Homo sapiens: one gene and its partners. The protein of the gene in region 3 purifies or fractionates together with the protein of the main gene of each other region. This does not show direct contact. Each region holds a gene or a part of one and is shown on either strand. Other genes may lie near its edges.

Region 1 (7,027 bases), on a different chromosome or scaffold from region 3:
AGGGACAGCATCTAACATGGATTCAAAGAGTAACATATTTTGGCTACTCAATGAGAAATTTAGATTTAATGTGCATTGGTAATGAATAACCATTATATGAGCAGAAGAGTTTTTGAGCAGAGGAATTATGTAATAAAAGCACCACTTTGGGAATATTTATCTGGTGCTGTTGGAAAGGGAGGAAGAGACAAGAGTTAGACATACAGACTAGTAGAATAATCCAACTGCATGATCATGTAGACCAGGGCTGCTTAATCTGAGCACTATTGACATTTGGGGCAAGCTAATACTTTGTTGGAAGCTGTGCATTGTAGAATGTTTTGTAGCATCCCTGGCTTCTAACCACTGGATGACCCCTCCATTTGTGACAACCAAAAATACCCTCTAGACATTGCTAAATGTTGGGGCATTAATTGGGAGTAAGAAGGCAAAATTGCCCAGAGTAAGAACCACTGACGTGCATCTAAACTAAATCAGTATCCTAGAAATTCAATTATAATGTATAATATGAAATTTCAACAGTGATTTTTTTCTTTGTATCTTCTTACATTGTCTGAAGCCTTTATTATCCATTTATTTTATGGTTTTTAAAAAAGGGCAGCTGACTGGGCACAGTGGCTCACGCTTGTAATCCCAGCACTTTCAGAGGCTGAGGCAGACAGATCACTTGAGCCAAGGAGTTCAAGACCAACAAATAAAATAAAATAAAGACAGCTTTTTTGACAAAAACAAGAACACAAAATGTATAAAAAATTTAACAAAAACAAGTAAACAAATTTTTTGTAATAAGCTTTCTCTAACAAAAAATTTATAATGATTACAGGCCGGGCGCGGTGCCTCACGCCTGTAATCCCAGCACTTTGGGGGGCTGAGGCAGGCGGATCACGAGGTCAGGAGATCGAGACCATCCTGGCCAACAGGGTGAAACCATTCCTTCTCTACTAAAAATACAAAAAAAATTAGCCGGGCATGGTGGCAGGCACCTGTAGTCCCAGCTACTCAGGAGGCTGAGGCAGGAGAATGGCGTGAACCCAGGAGGTGGAGCTTGCAGTGAGCCGAGATCGCGCCACTGCACTCCAGCCTGGGTGACAGAGTGAGACTCTGTCTCAAAAAAAAAGAGAAAAATTTATAGTGATTACATTTAAGTCTAAGTACAACTTATAGAGGTTTGTTTATATTTTAAATAATATTTTATATTTAAGAATAGCTAGCTGGTAAGGAATTTTGCAACTTTAAGCTGTTGGTTTATTTATCTTTTAAATTAGTGCACCTGGGGACTAACCCATTAATCAGTCAGATTTCTCTTAAACATTTTTTAGGGGAGAGGGAGAGGAGCGTTGTTCTTTTTGGCTTCATAACTTTCTTTTAGCAGCATTTCGTTCATCTGGCTTTAATTTGTAGAACTCTAGCGGTAATGCACTGGGTGTTCTTTTAAGGGAAGGCCCACACCATCAGTTGGGCAGAGGTGCTGATTTTAGCCCTGTTCATCATCAGCTACTAATCTGTAGTGCCTTAGAGAATAATCTGTTCTTCCCCCCAATCCCGGCACAAGAGACACTGTTAGTCAGGAACTTAGAATTGATTGAGCAAAGCGGGATGGAAGCAGTATGTGAGATTCTCGAGATGGCAAGTTTTTTCTGATGCTCTTAAGAACTGGTGATAAGGGAATGATGTTCTGAGCAAAGCTTGATTTTAAGTCAGAAATGGATACAACTCTTGAATATGATACCTTTTTTCCTTCTTTTTTCCCCCCGCCCTTGCCTCTTATTTCTTTAATTTTAAAAGGACAGAAAAAATTTCAAAGCTCTAGGACTTTTTGACTTTAGTATATGTGTGTGAAATTTTCCTAGTGGTCCATAGTAGTAAAATAGCTGGTAAATCATTTGAGTCTTTTGTGGCTTATATATTGCAAAATAAGCAGTTGTAGCAGGTATGCTGGGGAGATGTTATGCAACAGAAACTACATATTTATTGAATTTCTTTATATTAAGAGATTGGCAAGGAAAAGGTTTTCCAAGTGCTTAATGTATGATAGTATACTAGGAGCATTATAAATGGATCATTTCATTTAATCCACAAAACAACTCCAATAAATAAACTCCATTTATCAGATGAAGAGATTGAGGCTGAGAAAAGTTGAGTATTTCCCACAAAGTCCCACTACTGGAAGTGCTGGCACACAAATTTGAGCACGTCTCCAAACATCAAATCTTTGGTATCTTCATTCTACTCACCATTTTCTTTCACTTACAGCAAAATTAAACATGTAGGTTCTTAGGAAATCCCAGATTTCATAAAGGAGTAATTTGGTGGTAATTATTTGCATAATAAAATAATTCTTCTATTTATCACAGAGTTTCTTTCAATAGAGACTCCCAGAGATTCTTTATTATTAGATATACATCTAGGAATACAAAGAAACTTAATGCTAAGACTAACGTACAAGAGTGTCAACAGTGGAAGACTGCTAGAAATTAAAGATCATTTGCTTATTCATTCAACATATAAGCACCTGCTTTAAAAGCACATAATGGATACTGGGAGTATAATAATGAGCAAAAACAGACGTAGCCCCTACCTTGTGGAGTTTGTAATATAGTAAGGAAAACATCACTCAAATACTCTCCTAAATTAATACAGAATTATAGCAGTGGGAAGTATTACAAAGGAAAGGTACTTGGTGCAATTAGAGTGTATAATAATGGTGCCTAATCTCATCTTTTTCCTTGTATCTAGATAGGAATGGTAAAATTAGACATCTTTGAGACTTTATAAAATTTAAGCTATATAAACAAAGGTTAAACAAGAGGCTCTGGAGATCCCAAACTAAGTTCATTACTGTTCTTTCTTGAGGAAATAGAAAGGGCTAAGTCATTTACTACTTTTATTTTTAAAATTATAATTAATATACTCATTGCAGAATTATTAAACATTTACTTGTTTGTTCAACAAAATTTGTTGAGCCTTTACTGTATCTAAGGCATATTAATCACTTAATATAATTTAGATGTACTGGTACAATGTTAGCTAGTGATCAGTAACCAGATTTTACTGGTTTCCGTTGTAACCTTTTTAAATCATTCAACAAATTATAAGCTGGTGTATGTGCTAAAAATAAAAAATAACGCTTGTATCATGATCAGGTGTGAGATATCTCAAAAGTAGTTTATTACTAAAAATGATTTGACATTACCTAGTAAAGATGAACATATGCATATTCAACAACCCAGTAATTTTATTCCTAAATATATATCCTAATTTGGAGAGATTCTTTTTTGTGTTTTTTTGATGGGAGTCTTGCTCCTATTGCACTCCAGCAGCTATTCACAGGTATGATCATAGCCTTGAACTCCTGGACTCAAGCAGTCTTCCCAGCTCAGCCTTCTGAGTCGCTGGGACTAAAGGCTCACACCACCGTGATAGGCTGGAGAGATTCTTAAATATATACCCCAGGAGATGAATCTAAGACTGTTGCAGCATTGTTATAATTGGAAAAACAAAACAAAACAAAAAAACACCCTAGAAATAACCCAAATGTCCACATGCTGTAAAATAGATAAAATACATTTTGGATTTTGATATGTTTATACAATGGAAATATTATTTATTCAGCAATGAAAACAAATGAACTCTAGCTACACACATCAAGAATGAATTTTCAAAACATTGGATTTCAAAAGCAAATCGTAGCAGAATGTATACAATATGATTGTATTTATTTAAAGTTCAAAAACAGGAAAAAGTAAATGTTATACTGCTTAGAGATGATATGTACAAATGTATAAAATTGTGAAGAAAACCAAGAGAAAGGTCAAGAAAATTCAGTGTGGTGGTTTCCTCTTTGGGGCAGGGAGAGGTTTTGGTATCAACAAGGAACACACAGGGAGTTTCAGAGATATTTTATTTCTTAAGCTGGGTGGTGAGTACATGGGCCTAAATGTCTTTGGTTATTGTTACTTAAAATGTCCTTCTATCTCATATATACTTTAGGTTATATGTTTTGTAATTCTAAAAGAGAAAACATATATTCAAAAAATTAAAAGTTATTCCTATGATAACTTTACTCATTTGCATTCCAATATGCTTCCTGGAGTGGATGAGAATTGAGTGGCATTAAAGGTAATAGATAGGGAAGTTTTTGTGGGAGGATGACATACATTTTAATATCTCTGTCATGTATATCACATAAAGTGGTTGAGAACCACTGCTGCTAAAAGTCTGTAGTTTAGTAGGGTTGGCAGTCCTGTTAACAAATAACCATGTTATGAGTGCTCTACTAGAAGAGGTATCTTAAAAAAGAAATGGCTTGACATCAGCCAGGAAAGCTTTATGGGGCAGATGTTATTTAAGCTGGATCTTTAGGGACGAGCAGTTTATAAGGGGAGACTGGTGAGGGGAGCCCACATTGCCCAATGGAGGAAAAGGGTGTACAAAGGCACAGAAGCCTAAAAGTCCATAGAGAGTTGAGTGAGGAAATTCAGATATGTTAGGAGCCATACTGTGAAGAGCCTTGCCCGGCACACTCTGGAGTTTGCTCTGTGGGCATTGGGGTTTTATCACTTAAATTAGGGATATTAATTTCAGTATTTGATGTAAGGCTGTGTGCTAGTAGTTACCTTGAAAGTCTGTATGTATGTATATTTATGTTCTTTTTCCTCCATTTGCAGGCTGCTATATGGCAAGCACTAAACCACTATGCTTACCGAGATGCGGTTTTCCTCGCAGAACGCCTTTATGCAGAAGGTTTGAAATCTATTCATTGCTGTAGAATGATAAATGAATAACATATATGAAATTCCATAACTTTTTATCACTGTAACAAGATTCTAGCTATCATCATCTTGTTGTTTTTCTGATTGACACTAGTTCATAAAATCTTTACTTTTTTTCTGTGTAGTTCCCTTACATACTACTTTTAATAACTATGTAGAATTGATTCAGGTTTATATGCTATGATTTACTTAATCATTTTTCAATCTTTAGGTTTTTTTTTCCCCCAGGGTTTTTGTTGTTTTGGGTTTTTTTTTTTTTTTTTTTTTTTTTTTTTTTTGAAACAGGGTCTCACTCTGTCACCCATGTTGGAGTACAGTGGGACCATCTCAGCTCACTGCAACCTCTACCTCCCAGGCTCAAGCGATCCTCCCACATCAGCCTCCCAAGTAGCTGGGACCGCAGGCACGGACCACCACGCCTGGCTAATTTTTTTTTTTTTTTTGGTAGAGATAGGGTTTTGCTATGTTGCCCAGGCTGGTCTCAAATTCCTGAGCTTAGGTGATCCACCTGCCTTGGCCTCCCAAAGTGCTGGGATTATACTCATGGGCCACCATGCCATGTATTTTTTTTTTTTTTTTTTTTTTTTAAGAAAAGAGTCTGTATTCTATGGTGAAGAACATGGATTTAGACTCTATAGCCTTGGAACAAATCCTAACCTGTCACTTAAATGTACAGTTTTATAACCTTGGACGAGTTACTTTAATATCTGAAAATTCAGATATTTCATCTATAAAATAATCATTGCCCCTTAGAATTAAAAATTCAATGAGATGGTTTATTTAAAGCCCTTAGCACAGCCATCTGGCTTGGTAATCAATGCTTAATAAACACCACTGATAATGTATGTTTTGTTTCTGTCATTATTATAATTCCCTTTCTAAGATGCTGATATAGATCATTGTGTACAGCTTTTTTTTTTTTTTGAGTCATTTCCTTGGGTTATGTACTTTTAAATGGAATTTACAAGTCAAACAGTATGGGTTTAGTAGCTGAGAGTTGTGAGAACAAGGCCTAAACCTCAGGGGCAGGAAATTTCACAAAAGGACAAAGAGCAATGCTTGGAAGTAGTTTTGAGAAGTTAAGTGGAAACCAGCCTTACCTTGACTCTGAGATAGTGGGATGTAAGGTGATTACTGTCCATGTGAGAGAGCTGTCTCCTCGGTGGAGAATGGGAATTCAGTGAGAAAAGTGAGGAAGATCTGGGCAGCAGGAGTTTAAGGTCCCAATGAAAAGATTAGAAAGGTGAGAAGGAATGGAAGGCTTAGAAAGAAGATTATACAATAGATTAATCTACTCCATTCACTTATGCAAAAGTGATGTTTATTGTGAATAATCTATTTAAAAATATTTTCATTGATACCTAGGCAGGCCCCATATTTTGCTGTATTTTTAAAAATTTTTGTTGAGTCAGAATCTCACTCTGTCGCCCAGGCTAGAGTACAGTGGCACAATCATAGCTCACTGCAGCCTTGAACTCCTGGACTGAAGTGATCCTCCTGCCTCAGCCTCCCAAAGAGCTGGAGTTACAGATGTGAGCCACTGTACTCGGCCACTGTCTTCTATTTCTAGTATTTCCTTTTTGTTTTTGTTTATTATTAAAGAATAGGCAGTTTCTAGTTTATTATAGTTAGGCTCTTAAAAATTGTAAATTCATGGTTTAGAATTCAATTAGATTTTCCCATAGAATTGGTGGCAAGATTCCCAGATTAGTCCACATAAAGCTGTTTAATCCACGTTATTTATGTACCTGATACAATGCTTGGCACTTGGAAAGTTGCTCAGTAAATGTTAGTTTCTTTCAATATAGAACCTCACCATTCGGTTTAACCATATTTATATGAGGAAAGATTTTAGAATTAAGTGTAGTAAGAGCAGATACTATCCTGGCTCAGTAATAATAACAATAATTCTATCACTTATTGATTTCTTACTGTATACTAGGTACTCTAAGTATTTAATATTAGTTACTAATTTAATCTTCAATAATCCTATCAAATAGACATTGCTATTGCCATTTTCTGGATGAAGAACTGAGACTAATGTCCACAGGCGGTAACTAGTAATCTGTCTGATTCCGCTTTCCCAAGAGTAGCAATTACCACTTCTCTGATTTGCAACCATAGTAGGCATCACTAATCCATTACAGTACTCATTCCCACTGAACCAACCTCAGAATTCTTGGCAACAGTTTTCTTGGTGGACAATATCAGTTGATATGCTAGATGTAACCTGTTTGCTCAGGGGCCTCCTATGT
Region 2 (7,027 bases), on a different chromosome or scaffold from region 3:
AGTAGGGTGGAGAGGGTGAACATCCGTGCGGTCTTGCCACTGGGTAGCAGGTCTGTGGGGCATGAGCACGCCTGGGCCCCGCGGCGGAATTGCCACCTAGAGGTTTGTGCTCGCCTGGGCCCCCCGGCTGGTCTCAAGGGCGTGTTTATCCATTTAAGTGGGGGCAAGTGTGCCCACCAGGCACAGCGCACAGGTCGTGTGTGTCTGTCATGTCTCACGCTAGGGTTGCTGCTGCCAGTGATAAGTGTGGGCACTGGCGCGTGTGAGAGGCACGAAGACTGCAGGGGGGCCGGGACGTCGCCTTTTGGGCCATCACCCACCCTGCAGGTTTTGATGTGCTCCAGCCTCCAGACGCAGGTGGCCTTCGGGCTCCCCTCGGTCCCGGCCGACAGGGTGGGTGGCCGTGAGGCTCCTCCCAGCCTCTGAGTCAGCCCGGGGCTCACCATGCCTCCCTGCAGCTCACACTAGCGTTCTCCTGACAGTGGATCGAGCGGGTGGTCGGCTGGCTCGGCAAGGTGTTCCTGCAGGACGGCCCCGCCAGGCCCGCATCTCCCGAGGCCGGCAACACCCTGCGCCGCTGGCGCTGCCACGTGCAAAGGTTCTTCTACCGCATCTACGCCAGCCTGCGCATCGAGGAGCTCTTCAGCATCGTCCGAGGTGGTCCTGCCCCGGCCCTGGGGTCCGCTCTCCCGTCTGGGGAGTCTTCCCAGGGCCTTCCCCGTGTCTCCTCTGTGTCTGCATCTGGGCTCCCTGTGCCTTCACCGTGTCTGCTCTGTGTCTGCGTCTGGGGCTCCCAGGGCCTTTGCCGTGTCTGCTCTGTGTCTGCGTCTGGGCTCCCTGTGTCTGCGTCTTGGGCTCCCTGTGCCTTCGCCGTGTCTGCTCTGTGTCTGCGTCTGGGCTCCCTGTGTCTGCGTCTGGGCTCCCTGTGCCTTCACCGTGTCTGCTCTGTCTGCGTCTGGGGCTCCCAGGGCCTTCGCCGTGTCTGCTCTGTCTGCGTCTGGGCTCCCTGTGTCTGCGTCTGGGGCTCCCAGGGCCTTCGCTGTGTCTGCTCTGTGTCTGCATCTGGGCTCCCTGTGCCTTCGCCGTGTCTGCTCTGTGTCTGCGTCTTGGGCTCCCTGTGCCTTCACCGTGTCTGCTCTGTGTCTGCGTCTGGGCTCCCTGTGTCTGCGTCTGGGCTCCCCGTGCCTTCACCGTGTCTGCTCTTTGTCTGCATCTGGGGCTCCCAGGGCCTTCGTCGTGTCTGCTCTGTGTCTGTGTCTGGGCTCCTTGTGTCTGCGTCTGGGCTCCCTGTGCCTTCGCCGTGTCTGCTCTGTGTCTGCATCTGGGGCTCCCAGGGCCTTCGCCATGTCGGCTCTGTGTCTGCATCTGGGCTCCCTGTGTCCACGTCTGGGGCTCCCTGTGCCTTCGCTGTCGCTCTTGCAGGGGGGTGCACCGGGCAGTGCTGGGACTGTCCCCACTGCGGCGTCCCCCGTGCCTGGATCAGGGCAGGTGTGGCAGATGCTGGACAGTGCTTCTGGGTGTCCACTGCTGTGCTGCCTTGGCCTTGGCTCCTGCTGGGGACTGGCCCCTGGGTGTTGCTCTGTCCACCCTGTGGCATTGTGGTCAAATGCATCAGCACGCCAGAGTGTCGGGGGGATGTCTGGTGCCTAGCAGGTGGTCTCATCATCGTCCTGGGGCTGGCAAGCACGTGTCCTTTCCCACACCGCACACACTCTGCACCAGCCTGCACGTGCGCACGCATCCATGTCTGTCCCTGAGGGATGTTCTTCTTCTTGTAGACTTCCCAGACTCCCGGCCAGCCATCGAGGACCTCAAGTACTGCCTGGAGAGGACGGACCAGAGGCAGCAGCTGCTCGTGTCCCTCAAGGCTGCCCTGGAGACTCGGCTCCTGCATCCAGGTGCTGTGTGCTGCCCGGCCACCCAGCACTCTGGGCTTAGACACTCACCAGGGGACCCATGTCCAGGGAGCCTGGGGCCTAGTCTGCCAGCCCTGGACTTGTAGGTCTAAGGAAGAAATGGGTTGAGAAGCAATTGGTGAGGTCCTTAGGGGATCTGAGGTGCCCGTCAGCTTGCTTGTTTCTTCTTTGGAGGGAGTCAGGACTGACCGGTAGGTCTGAGGTGATGAGACTTAGTTCTCTCAGAACAGACCTCCCTGCAGGGCGGGACCTGTGAACAGGTAGAGGTGGGGATGGGGGGACAAGGGAACGAGGCTGCAGTGGGGACCTGTAGACCACCTACCGGCATGGCCAGCTGTCTACTCGGGTGTTGCCCCTGGGAGGCTGTGGTCCCGGGCACTGCATGACTGCTGGCTTCTGCCCTGGCTGTAGGCGTCAACACGTGTGACATCATCACCCTCTATATCTCTGCCATCAAGGCGCTGCGCGTGCTGGACCCTTCCATGGTCATCCTGGAGGTGGCCTGTGAGCCTATCCGCCGCTACCTGAGGTGAGGGCTGCAGCTGGCCCAGGAGCCACTGGGACCCTGGGCATCCTGCTGAGCTCCTCGTGGTCCTGGGGGGCAGCCGGAGGGTGTGTTCGGCCGTCAGGACACAAGGTCTCCCCCGGCTGGGCTGAGTGCACGGGATCAGGCCCGAGGCTCTTTCCTTTCCTCTTGCCCGTGCCGGGCACCTGTCCTTGTCACACGGTGTCACCGTGCCCTCTGTGTGCAGCTGCCAGAGGCCCACCACAGCCCTTCCTCAGCCTCCCCATCTCCAGCACAGAGAGAAGCTCTTCCACTTGGCCTCGCCTTGGTGCTGACCAGTCCCCAAGGCCGACCAGGCAAGGGGAGTGGGCTCTGCTGTCCTGGCCTTTCCCACGGCAAGGAACAGACACTCCTGGGGCTGTTCGGTGGAGAATGTGTTGGGATGAGGACCTTGACATGGCTGCCTGGGAATTCCTCAGGGGTCGCAGAGGCCCTGGCCCGGGGCTGGCAGGCACAGTGGCCCCCAGGAGCCGAGCAGCAGGAGCCGGTGGAGTCTGGCCCCTACCTGGACTCCTTTGGTGCTTTGTGGCTGTAACTGGCCTGGCTTCTGAGCCAGTTCTTTGTTTTTTCTTTTTTTTTTGAGATGGAGTCTCACTCTTTCGCCCAGGCTGGAGTGCAGTGGCACGATCTCTGCTCACTGCAAGCTCCGCCTCCCGGGTTCACGCCATTCTCCTGCCTCAGCCTCCCGAGTAACTGAGACTACAGGCCGCCACCAAGCCTGGCTAACTTTTTGTATTTTTAATAGAGATGGGGTTTCACCATGTTAGCCAGGATAGTCTTGATCTCCTGACCTCGTGATCCGCCTGCCTCGGCCTCCTGAAGTGCTGGGATTACAGGCGTGAGCCACCGTGCCCGGCCCTTTTTTCTTTTTCTTTTTCTTTTTTTTGAGGCAGGCTCTCGCTCTGTTGGAGTGCAGTGGCAGAATCCTGTCTCCCTGCAGCCTCGGACACCTGGGCTTAGGTCTTCTGGCTTAGTGTCCCTATGTGCTGGGATTGCAGGTGCGCAGGCCGGCCTTGCGCTCGCAGCTCCTGCTGCTCCCAAGTAACGTTGGGTTTATTTGTTTTTAAGGAGTCTGACGGGCCTGTGTTTAGTACATAGCCCATCACCACTGAGTGTAGAGGCAGGGTCGGTGGTGCTGGCCTAGATGGGGCCGGGACTGGAATGAGTGGTGGGAGGTGCGCGCGGGGTGTCCACACTGTGGGCCACAGCAGCACTCACATCGGCAGGACGCGGGAGGACACAGTGCGGCAGATTGTGGCTGGGCTGACGGGGGACTCGGACGGGACAGGGGACCTGGCTGTTGAGCTGTCCAAGACCGACCCGGCGAGCCTGGAGACAGGCCAGGACAGTGAGGATGACTCAGGCGAGCCAGAGGACTGGGTCCCGGACCCTGTGGATGCCGATCCAGGTTAGCTTGCCCCACATGGTCCCTTTCACCAGTGTGGGGGGCGCTTCAGCCAGGCCGTCCGCTCTGGACTCATCCCTTGTCACAGAGCTTGGCTGTGTCAGGTGTCGCTAGTGTCTCAGAGGCTTGAGGGTGTCAAAGGTCAGGGCAGTGCTCCGCCACCTGCCAGCCTGGGCAGGCCGGTGATGGGCTGTTTTCCTCTGTGGCTGGTCACTCTGGCCGTGGGGGATGCCCTGCCTCCCACCGCTTGTGAGCTGTGGGGTGTCCCTGCCCCGCCACTGCACCTGGCAGAGGAGTGAAGATGTGGGTGACCCCTGAGCTCTGTACTGATTTGGGCCTCAAAGTCCCGTTAGGGTGCCAGCTCCTGCTCAGAGCCCATCTGTGCCTGGCCCTCGTCTGCGAGGGCTCTGAGGGCTATGGGGCCCAGGCCTGGCCCCTGCCCTGGCACAGATGGTAAGTCTTCAACACATCTTTAGTCTCTCTCAGAGGAAAACCCCAGGACCTTTGGCTTGTCCCCTAAGCCTGCATGGGAGTCCCGGAAGGTCCCTGTGGGGTGAGAGGGGCTGGGGATTGAAGCTGTTGCTCCAGGACCTGACTCCAGGTCTCCCGGGAGGCTCAGGGCTGCTCCCAGCCTCGAGGGCCTTCAGGAAGAGCCATGCTGGGCTGTGCCGTCTGGCTGGGCGGGATGGGAGGAGGGCGGCCCTGTCCTTGCCCAGGTGCCTGTCAGGTGACACCCCTGCCCCCACCATGCCAGGGAAGTCGAGCTCCAAGCGGCGTTCATCGGACATCATCAGCCTGCTGGTCAGCATCTACGGCAGCAAGGACCTCTTCATCAATGAGTACCGCTCGCTGCTGGCCGACCGCCTGCTGCACCAGTTCAGCTTCAGCCCCGAGCGGTGAGGCCTGTGACGCGCTGGCCATCTCCAGGGGTGCCGGGGCCTTTGCCCAGCCTCTCTCGGGACAGGGCCCTGACGCCGTGCCTGGGGCCTGGTTGGAGCTGTGCTTCCGCCCCCACTCCTGGCTGGGGGTGTGCTAGCCATTGGGGTGCCCACACAGGCTCCCTGCTCTGCCTGGGGGGCACCCCCGTGCCCTGCCACAGGTGCTCCTTGGGGCTGGGGCTCATCACGACCCCCTGCCCAGACACTCGTCTTTCCAGGGAGATCCGCAACGTGGAGCTGCTGAAGCTGCGCTTTGGCGAGGCCCCAATGCACTTCTGTGAAGTCATGCTGAAGGTGGGTCCCAGCCCCGCCCGCTGCCCGGCCGCCCCGCAGGTCCCCCGTGACACCGGCTCCTCCTCAGGACATGGCGGACTCCCGCCGCATCAATGCCAACATCCGGGAGGAGGATGAGAAGCGGCCAGCAGAGGAGCAGCCACCGTTCGGGGTCTACGCTGTCATCCTGTCCAGTGAGTTCTGGCCGCCCTTCAAGGACGAGAAGCTGGAGGTCCCCGAGGATATCAGGGCAGCCCTGGAGGCTTACTGCAAGAAGTATGAGCAGCTCAAGGTACCTCCATGCCAGGCCACCCCATGGGCTCTTGGCACCCCTACCCTGCACTGCGGGGCTCCCAGCAGCCTGGTGCCTGTGGCTGCCCCGTTGTCACCCGAGTGTCTCTGGGTTGGTCCTGTCTCGCAGCCGCCTCTGCAGGAGAGGGAGTGGGCCTGGCCCACGCTCTCTCCGCCTTCCTCCCAGCAACCCCGTGTCCCCTGTGAGCGAGCGTCCGCGCGGCCCACAGGCGCTTGGGTGGGCTGTGCTGGGCCCAGGTCTCCTGAACTGCTTCAGGGGGACCCCTGTGGCCACAGCAGGCCCTGCCCTCTGAGCGTTTCCTCCTCTTTTGCTATCCACCCTCTGCCTCTCAGAACCGGGGCTTGGGGTGCCTTGCGTCACTGCAGGGAGGCAGCTAGGGAGCCAGGGCTGCCCTCTGCCCAGGGCAGCACTCCCAGGCGCACCTGACCCCCAGGACCCCAGCCCTGCCCCCTTCTCCAGGTCTGTTTCCTCGAGAACTGCCTTTGCAGGCTCCAGTGGTACTTGAGGACCGGGGCTATGGGTCTGTGGTGGGAGTAGGAGGGGAGCAGATGTGGGGAGTGGAGGAGTGAGCCCTGGCCTGGAGGTCACTGGCAGATGGGGACAGTGTGCCCAGAGGATGGTATTGGCCACGTTTGGCTCACTTCCCCTGGCAGCACTGCTGAGATCCCAGCAGTCCCAGTACAGGCGTCCAGAGCCTGAGGGATGGAACTAGGCTTGGCGGTTCTTTCCCTGAGCTCATAGTCAGGTGGGAGGTGTCAGCTCGGGGAGGAAGGGTTAGGATGGTCGTCACAGGTGGGAGGTGTCGGCTCGGGGAGGAAGGGGTCGGGATGGTCGTCACAGGCGGGTTCCAGGGCTTTCTGTCTGATGTGTGGGGCCTGTGAGGCCTCCAGTGTGCCCAGCGAGTGCTCAGGACTGGGGGGAGGCGGGCACCCCAGCGGGGGACATGTGAGGAGAGGGTTCTGGGGCACAGCCAGCATCCAGTCTGCAGACCCCAACCCCAGGTACCCCAGGAAGGGGATGGTCCAGCCTCGGCCCAGGCAGGAGGAGCAGCCTCAGGACAGAGCCGCCAGGAGGCCGGCGGGCGGGCGGGGCTGAGTTCAAGGGAGGGTCCACAGCTTCTCCAGGTCTGCTGTGAAGGAGGCTGGACCTAGATGTGTTTTCCTTTTTCTTTTGCAAGTAAGAGGGCCTTGCTGTGTTGACAAACCAAGGGAACTTACTCCTAGGGGAGGGCAGGGCGATGTGTCCACTTTAGAAACCAAGGGGGAAGCTTCCTTCCGGAGACAGACAAGGGGAGGGCCAGGCGGAGGCCCCCAGGGCAGGAGGCCAAGGGGCTGTGGTAGGGCCGGGCTGCTGACCATGGTGGCGAATGCCTGCTGCCTCCCTCCAGGCCTCAGCTTGGCTCTGGAAGAGTCCAGGTGTCCCTTGCAGCTTGTGGAGGGTCTGTGTGGCTTGCACCTGCTCTCGGTGGAAAGGAGCACCCTGGCCATCCCCACACCTCGAGCTCTGGCCTGTGATACAGCCTGGTGTCTCTGGAGCCTGCGGGCACCGTGCCCCGCTGTGTTCTGGTACAAATCATCCGTGTGGCCCGGCTCCGTGCTCGGTCCCTTTCCCCCTGCC
Region 3 (6,989 bases):
AAGTGCAGACTGATGGCCTGGGAGGGGCCAAAGAGACCAGATCCTGGCAGCAGCTGAGGAGGTGCCCAAGGGCACTTTCAGGCACTGGGGCCATCAGCTGGTTCTGTGGGCAGGGGTTGGGGGTTGGGATGCAGGGTAGTTTGGGCTGGCCTGGAATCTCCCTGAGGCCACCCTGCCTTGTCTACCTAGATCATCCACTGGTCCTGATCCTGTTCGTTGCCTTCCATGTCCACCTGGAGAGGAGGCTGGGTGTGGGTGGGGAGGGGCCTCAGCCAGCCTCAGCCCCAGATCCTGCCCCTGGCTGGATCCAGGGTTTCTGTACCCCTTGGCCATCAACTGGGTCAGGAGCAAGGGTCCAGGAACAGAGGCCCTCCCCCATACCCCTTGCCTACCTCATTGACCTCTCCATCATCCGGTGACTCATTGTAGTCATTCATCTCGTCCATGTCCTGCATATCCTCATCATCCTCTGAGTCCTCTTCACTATCCTCATCATCTTCATCATCCTCTTCTTCCTCGTCATCATAGTGCTGGTGGGCAGGACAGAGCCTGTAAGCCCTACAGGCCTGCATGGACCAGTTCAAGAACTGACCCACTTGAGCCTCTCTCTAGGGCCAATGAATGACCCCCTACCCCGACACTCCCTCCTTGAGTCTAGCAGGCTGGTGCATGTTCTGCAGGACCTTAATGCTAGGCCCAATGCCCACCCCTTCTATCTCCCCTTTTAGGCTTTTACCCAGATCTGAGAACCACAACTGCTCTGGGTCAGAGACAGGACATTCAGAATTAGAGCAGAGCCTCGGTCCACTGCGGCCCCCACACAGGCCCCACCTGCTAGAGCCACTCACCTCTGAGGCTGGCTTGCCAATAGGAACCAGGTTGTTGTCTTTCTCCGCGATGCTTTGGAGCTGTGGGCAAAGGCACAGAGGAACAAGGCCAGAGCCCAAGTAGGGCAGGTCAGGGGCATGGGACTGGCCCATTCTGCCCAGAAGACAACCCACACGTGTTGGGGAGAAGCTTCCTCCCAGTTCTCAGGGAGATACAATCCCTTTCTTGTCATCTGCCATTTATGAACTTGATCCAAATACTTAAACTCTCTGAGCCTTCTTTTTTTTGTATAATTATGGTGAGGATGAAGTGAGAGACTTATCAGCCTAGAAAGCATCATCTGCTAGATCCTCAATTAATAGTCAAAATTATTTCCTGTGCTTTAGGGAAAAGAGCTTGGGCTGAGTGTCAGCAGCCTGGGCTCTAATCTGGCCCAGAAGTCACATGGTACCCCTGTAAAATAGGGTACCACAAGATGAGAACCTTGGCTCCCTGGCTCCCAGCCCGATTATTCCCAGCTCAGGGCAAAAAGCTCTTCCTGGGTAGATTTCTGGAGTAAGGCTGGGTCATGGCCCACTGAAGGAGGTCTCTGTCTGTGCTGAGGTCTCTGTGCTGTGCTAGCTGCTCACTCACCCAGGCCTGATGCTGCTGTTCCTGCTGCTGCAGCTCTGTCTCTTCCACACAGGGTCGATCCAGATTAAACCACAGAGTCTCAGTCACACGAGGGAAGAGTGAGGGGAACAAAGTGGACATGGCTCCTAGACTGAGGGAAAGGGTCAAGTGAATGTGTTTTGCTTTGTTTTTGTTTTTAATTTGGTTGTAATTTGATTTAGGGATAGGGTGGAAGACAGCAGGAAAGCAGCCCCTCCCCCTAGGAATCAGACAGACCTGGCTTTGAGTCCTGGCTCCACCACTTACTAGCTGTTTGACCTTGGCTGAGTCACTTAACCTCTCTGAGCCTCAGTGTCTTCATCTGTAAAATGGGGATAATAACAATTATACCACTGTCAAAGTTATTCTGATAATTAAGTAAATAATGGATCAACAAAGCTGTTTGCAGGCTGTTCAAGGAGGGATGAGAATGGGAGTCAAGTGTAGGGATAGGAATCCAGAATGCAGACTGGCATTATGAAATTATACAAAATTAGAGGTAGCAGGGTTCTACTGAAACTATCCCTACCTCCTCCACACACTAAAACCTGCTTTTTGACCCTTTATGATGGCCCATACCACACCCACCCAGTGTCAGAAATTTAGGACACTAACGACCTCTCATGAATCACAGCCAAATGTCGGGGTGGAGGGATTGTAGCATATGCAAGCAGGGTTCAGTAAGACATTCTAGGAGGCATGAATAAGTGGATAAATAAGTAGATGGAAGATTGAATGGATGAACTAACATTATAAGGGTACAATCAGCTTTGAGCGGCTGAGGGAGCCGACCAGGAGTGCCAGATAATCTGAATTAAACTTAGGACAGGCGAACTGAGGCCCAGCGACAGGCAGAGACTGGCTTTAGGTCATACAGTGTGTCGGGGCTTAGAATTCCTCCGTGAAAGGGATGAGCAGGAGAAAATAATCGATGCCTGGTCCTGCTTTTGTCTTAATTTATCTGACCGACCCAGGGCCAGCCGCTGCCCTTCCCTGTATCTCAGATTCCCAACCCGCGTAATTAGGCACGACGGTAAACACCCTCATGTCCAAGAAGTACTGACAGACCAGCGATCTCGGCTCCGAAAGCCCAACCCACCGTCGCAAAGCCACCGCCCTTTCTTTGCTCATTACGATAATGACCATGCAGTTGACCAACAGAAAGAAAGCAGGGCGGGTCTCAGACAGAAATTTGGCCTTATAGGGTTGCTAAACGCGAAAAAAGCGGGGCCTGGGTAGGACCAATTAACTGAAAGAAATGCTGGGTGACAGGAAGTGACACCAATGAATGACGGACCTTGTGTGACGGGGTGGGGCTTAGTCTCGAGGAAGCGGCCAATGAGCTGGAGCTCTTTAAGGGTTAAGGACTCTCAATATGGAGCTCCTGGGGAGTCGGGTCAAAGGAAATGGGTTTCTCTGGGGGAAAAAGGAATGAAGGGGCAAGGAGACGGTTGCAGCCTTGCGTCTGTACTTACCGCGCCGGGAGGCTGCTGCCGGCGGCGACCCGGAAGCGCTTCACCCAGCCTGAGCGGAAGAACCCACCAGAATCCGGGACTCACCAAACGCATGCGTCCTTCGTCTCCTTTTGTTTTCCCCGCTCCCGCCCACTAAACCGGATGTGACGTTGACCTACCTTAGTCACATTGTTAGGGAAGGAAGTGTGCCGCGCCTACCTATCTGCCCCGCCTTGAGTCTCAGCCAGTCGGCGTCTCCATCCTGGCGCCAGCACTACGGTCTCGTTTAACCACTGCCCCGTTTAACCCCTGCCCTTTTGTTGCCAGTCACCATTTGCTTGTTAACCCCTTCTGAAGAAGAGCTGACAGCAACCTTTTAGTGCGAGGGCCATTCGTCCTGCTGCATCCCAGAAAACTAATCTGTTACTACTTCAGAATTGCTGGTTGATGTTAGGCCCCTCCTATCTGTGCTCTCTCAGCTACAGTTTCCCGTTTGAGCATATTCATTCTTTTTTATTTTTGCTCTGAACAAAAATATTAGAGTTACAATATTACTATATTCCAGGCCTTGCTAGAAACTGGGGATAAATCTAGGAATATGGTCGCTTCCCTGGAAGACCTCACAGTCCAGGGAAGCCAAACCCTGCAGACATGCAGTAGACTTAGTGGTCTCTCTTAAGGTTGCTTGTTGAGTTTTGACATTGGAGATTATGTACAGACTTGAATGACTAGTTAGCCTCAGGCACAGCATTCTGTTGCTGGGGGAATCAGCTGCCCTCCTCAGGCCTGGGCCAAGTACACTTAGAGATCGCCCTCGTCACCTCTCCCATCCTTTGCTGATGCCTCTGTTCTAGTAACCTCTGACTCAGCTTCGCCTTTAGAGATACTCATGCTTTCTGGCAACAGAGGTCCTTCAAACCCAATTCCTATTAAACTCCATCACTTACCAGCCTCTTTCAGGGACAGCAGTTATCCGCATTTCCAGTACTGTCCTGGCCAGATGTGTGAGTTTTGGCAATTCCTTTTCCTCTCTCTGGACTCAGCTTCTTTGTCAACCAGCATCATAATCTCTGCCCAGCCTTCCTTCTATCCTGGGCTGATGTGAAGATTGGATAAGAATTGTTCAAGAGGTCGTGTACTGTGCATATTGAATGTGATTATATTGCCAAATAGCACTGTTTGTTATAGTTTTTCATTAAAGAGTAAACTTTGCCTCTTGGAAATGACTACCTTTTTCATTCATTCAACAAATACCTACTGAGTGCCTTAGTATATGTCCATCACTATTCTTAGTAGTGGGTATACAATAGTAAACAAAACAGACCAAAAAAGTCCCTCTTTTCATGCAGCCTTCATTCTGAGAGAGGTAAACAATAAAGAAGATAGATAAATAAAATATGTAGTTGTAAGATTGCAGTAAATAAGAGAAAAAATAAATCTGAGAAGTGGGAATAAAATATTTGCAGGGGAGGTGTTTTATTTCAGACTGGGGGGCCAAAGTCACTGGGAAGGTGACTTTTGAGTAAAGGTCTGAAGGAGCAGAGAGCCTTCTGATATTTGTGGAAGAGCATTTCAGAGAGAGAGAATACAAGTGCAGAGGGCCTAGAATGGCTTGGGCATAGTGTCCTCTAGGGAGAGTAATAGGTAGGAGATGAGGAGTTGGGGAGCCAGTGGAGGGTTGTGAGCACAGGGTCCACACAATCTGATTTACAGTTTAACTGAGTTACTCTGGCTGTTCTCCAAATAGACTGGGGTAGGGGAGACAATGGCAGAAGCAGGGAGACCATTTGGGAGCCTATTATGATAATCTAGAGGTAGTGGATGAGAAGTGGTTGAATTCTGAATTTATTTAGATGGTAGAGACTACAAGGTTTGCTAACAGATGGACAATGCCAGAATAAGAAAGGAGCCACGATTTTTGGGCTGAACGACTAGAAGATTGGTGTTGCCACTTTTTTGAGTTGGGAAGGAATGGGGAGGTGATGAGGGGTTTGGTTTTTTTTTGACAGGGAGCTTAGGTTTGAGTGTGTTGAGTCTGAGATGCCCATTAGAGTAGAGATGTTGGGGCGGCAGGAAGGCATATGAGTCTGCAGGTCAGGGCAGAGATCTGGGCTGGATAGATCATTTGGGAGTCATTGGCATGTAGATGGTGTTTAAAGTCATGAGACTGGATGAGATCACCAAGGGAGTGAATGTAGTTGGAAAATAGTTTCCTCCAATATTCAGAATTTGAGGAAACTAGGAAAAGCAGCAAACCAGATGGAGAAGGAAGGCCAAAAAGATAAGTAGAAAGCTGGGTGAGTTGATGGTATCTTGGAAGCCATGTAAAGAAAGGGTGGTAGGAGAAAATGGTTTACTGCAGCCTCATTCTGTACAAAATTGTGCTTTTGTTTATTTCCCCAACAGACCATGAGCTCCTTGAGGGCAGGGACTGAATGGTTACTATGTCCCCAGGGCCCAGCATGACCTTCTCCTGGATTCCTCATCTTCCTTCTGTGACCTGTGTCTCCATCAGTTTCTCCTCCGGCATCTTTTTCTTACAGGATTCTTACCTCAGGTACCATTTGCCCCGTCCTTCCTGATAATTCCGCCTGCTGGAAATTCCCTAGTAACAGAGTTTCTTTTCAGGGTCATCAGCCAGGCTCAGTAAGTAATGATGACTGGTTAGCTGGTGACATTTATTGAGTACCAACTGAGTGCCAGACACCTTTCTAGGCCCTGGGGACAGAGGGGAAGCAGAAATAATTCCTGCCCTAGAGAAAAATAGAGTATAGTGAGTACTAAGACAATTATAGACAATTATAGAGGAGGGTAATAAATGTTAAAATCAATGTATGTAGAGAATACATGAGAACACAGAGGAGGGATTGATGAATGGGTTCTGAACAAACTAAGTTTAGACTTTTGTTCCAGAAAAGGAAACATTTGAGTGGGCCTTGAGGGATGAGTAGGAGTTAAGCCCACTGGTAAATAAGTAGGAAAAGAGGGTGCACAAAGAGGCATATTTCATTCAAGGGCATGTTTGGAGAACATTGAGAATCTGGGCAGAACTAGATATGTGGAGTGGAGAAAGATGAGAAAGAATGATAGGGGACCCAGATAGGGAAGGTCTTTGGTGGCCCTATATGGAGTGGATGGGATGGGATCTGGGCATCTTGGGTCTCACCTTTGTCTTATTGCCGACTTGCTGGGGACCCCAGGTAGATGTCTCCCCATTCACAAGCTTCCGTGTTCTCTAACATAATATCTAACCATGTCGCCAGCTCTGATGTGAGTCCCTGGAAGGGATTCCCCTAGCTTGATCCTTTCCATTCTTAGATTTTTACATTTGCCTTATTTGTGATTTATACAAACCAGGGCCTAGGAATGGAAAGCAGGGTCAGGATGGAGATTTCTCAACAGAAATCAATAAATCCAGAGCCCAGAGGCTGAAGATGGAAACCATGATTCTATGCAGAGAATTCTCTAGGATCCAGGAAGGGCCAGAGTTGAGTGGTGTGAATTCAGTGCTAGTGAAAGCTGCTTACTCATTCCTTCCATAAACCTTGAGGAGCATGGCTGACCCTGGTAGGGGACAGGGGAGAATGTAACAGTCACAGTCACTACCTTTCATACATATGGAGGGATAGTTGGTCTCCAGAGAGTTTTCCCACTCATAGTCTCCACTTATCCTTAGCCCAGCCCTGGGGATTCTGCCTTCATTTAGCAGATGAGGAACCTGAGGCTCAGGAAAGTAAAGCGGCTTGTCTGAGTTGAAGCTACAACTCAAGAATGTCAAAATCTTGCATTGTTCCACAAATCTTCCTTATGGGCTGATATGTGCTTGCCGATGGGGACTCACAGAGGAATTCGATTTGAGTCCTAGTCCTCTGCAACTACCCAGTATGGTGTGGATACCAGACTAACGCAAGTCATTAGGCCCTTGAGGCCAGATCTCTGTGTGATTCATCTGTATTTCCCCGGCACCTTGCACAGTGTCTAGCACAGAGTAGCCACTCAACAAATGTTTATATAAGATGGGTTTTTTTCCTTGGGTCTAATGGAATTATAGTTCAC

Evidence for each region. The genes of interacting proteins can lie anywhere in the genome.
Region 1: the proteins of ANAPC15 (region 3) and CDC27 purify together in Homo sapiens (affinity purification with mass spectrometry; 3 studies listed by BioGRID and IntAct, with this or other methods). This does not show direct contact.
Region 2: the proteins of ANAPC15 (region 3) and ANAPC2 purify together in Homo sapiens (affinity purification with mass spectrometry; 4 studies listed by BioGRID and IntAct, with this or other methods). This does not show direct contact.

Annotation. Positions count from the first base shown.
Region 1 is NC_000017.11:47,179,278-47,186,304, reverse strand, and holds part of CDC27 (cell division cycle protein 27 homolog), read left to right. Parts: intron 1-4,667; coding exon 4,668-4,743; intron 4,744-7,027. UniProt on the Homo sapiens protein: Component of the anaphase promoting complex/cyclosome (APC/C), a cell cycle-regulated E3 ubiquitin ligase that controls progression through mitosis and the G1 phase of the cell cycle.
Region 2 is NC_000009.12:137,178,543-137,185,569, reverse strand, and holds part of ANAPC2 (anaphase-promoting complex subunit 2), read left to right. Parts: intron 1-482; coding exon 483-657; intron 658-1,778; coding exon 1,779-1,898; intron 1,899-2,327; coding exon 2,328-2,445; intron 2,446-3,707; coding exon 3,708-3,889; intron 3,890-4,640; coding exon 4,641-4,782; intron 4,783-5,042; coding exon 5,043-5,118; intron 5,119-5,185; coding exon 5,186-5,389; intron 5,390-7,027. UniProt on the Homo sapiens protein: Together with the RING-H2 protein ANAPC11, constitutes the catalytic component of the anaphase promoting complex/cyclosome (APC/C), a cell cycle-regulated E3 ubiquitin ligase that controls progression through mitosis and the G1 phase of the cell cycle.
Region 3 is NC_000011.10:72,109,696-72,116,684, forward strand, and holds the start of ANAPC15 (anaphase-promoting complex subunit 15), read right to left. Parts: upstream 3,001-6,989; 5' UTR 2,955-3,000; intron 2,604-2,954; exon of another isoform or gene 2,544-2,603; intron 2,541-2,543; exon of another isoform or gene 2,229-2,540; intron 1,802-2,228; 5' UTR 1,717-1,801; intron 1,592-1,716; 5' UTR 1,582-1,591; coding exon 1,462-1,581; intron 1,088-1,461; exon of another isoform or gene 909-1,087; coding exon 849-908; exon of another isoform or gene 567-848; coding exon of another isoform or gene 531-566; coding exon 393-530; exon of another isoform or gene 246-392; coding exon of another isoform or gene 234-245; coding exon 186-233; 3' UTR 1-185. UniProt on the Homo sapiens protein: Component of the anaphase promoting complex/cyclosome (APC/C), a cell cycle-regulated E3 ubiquitin ligase that controls progression through mitosis and the G1 phase of the cell cycle.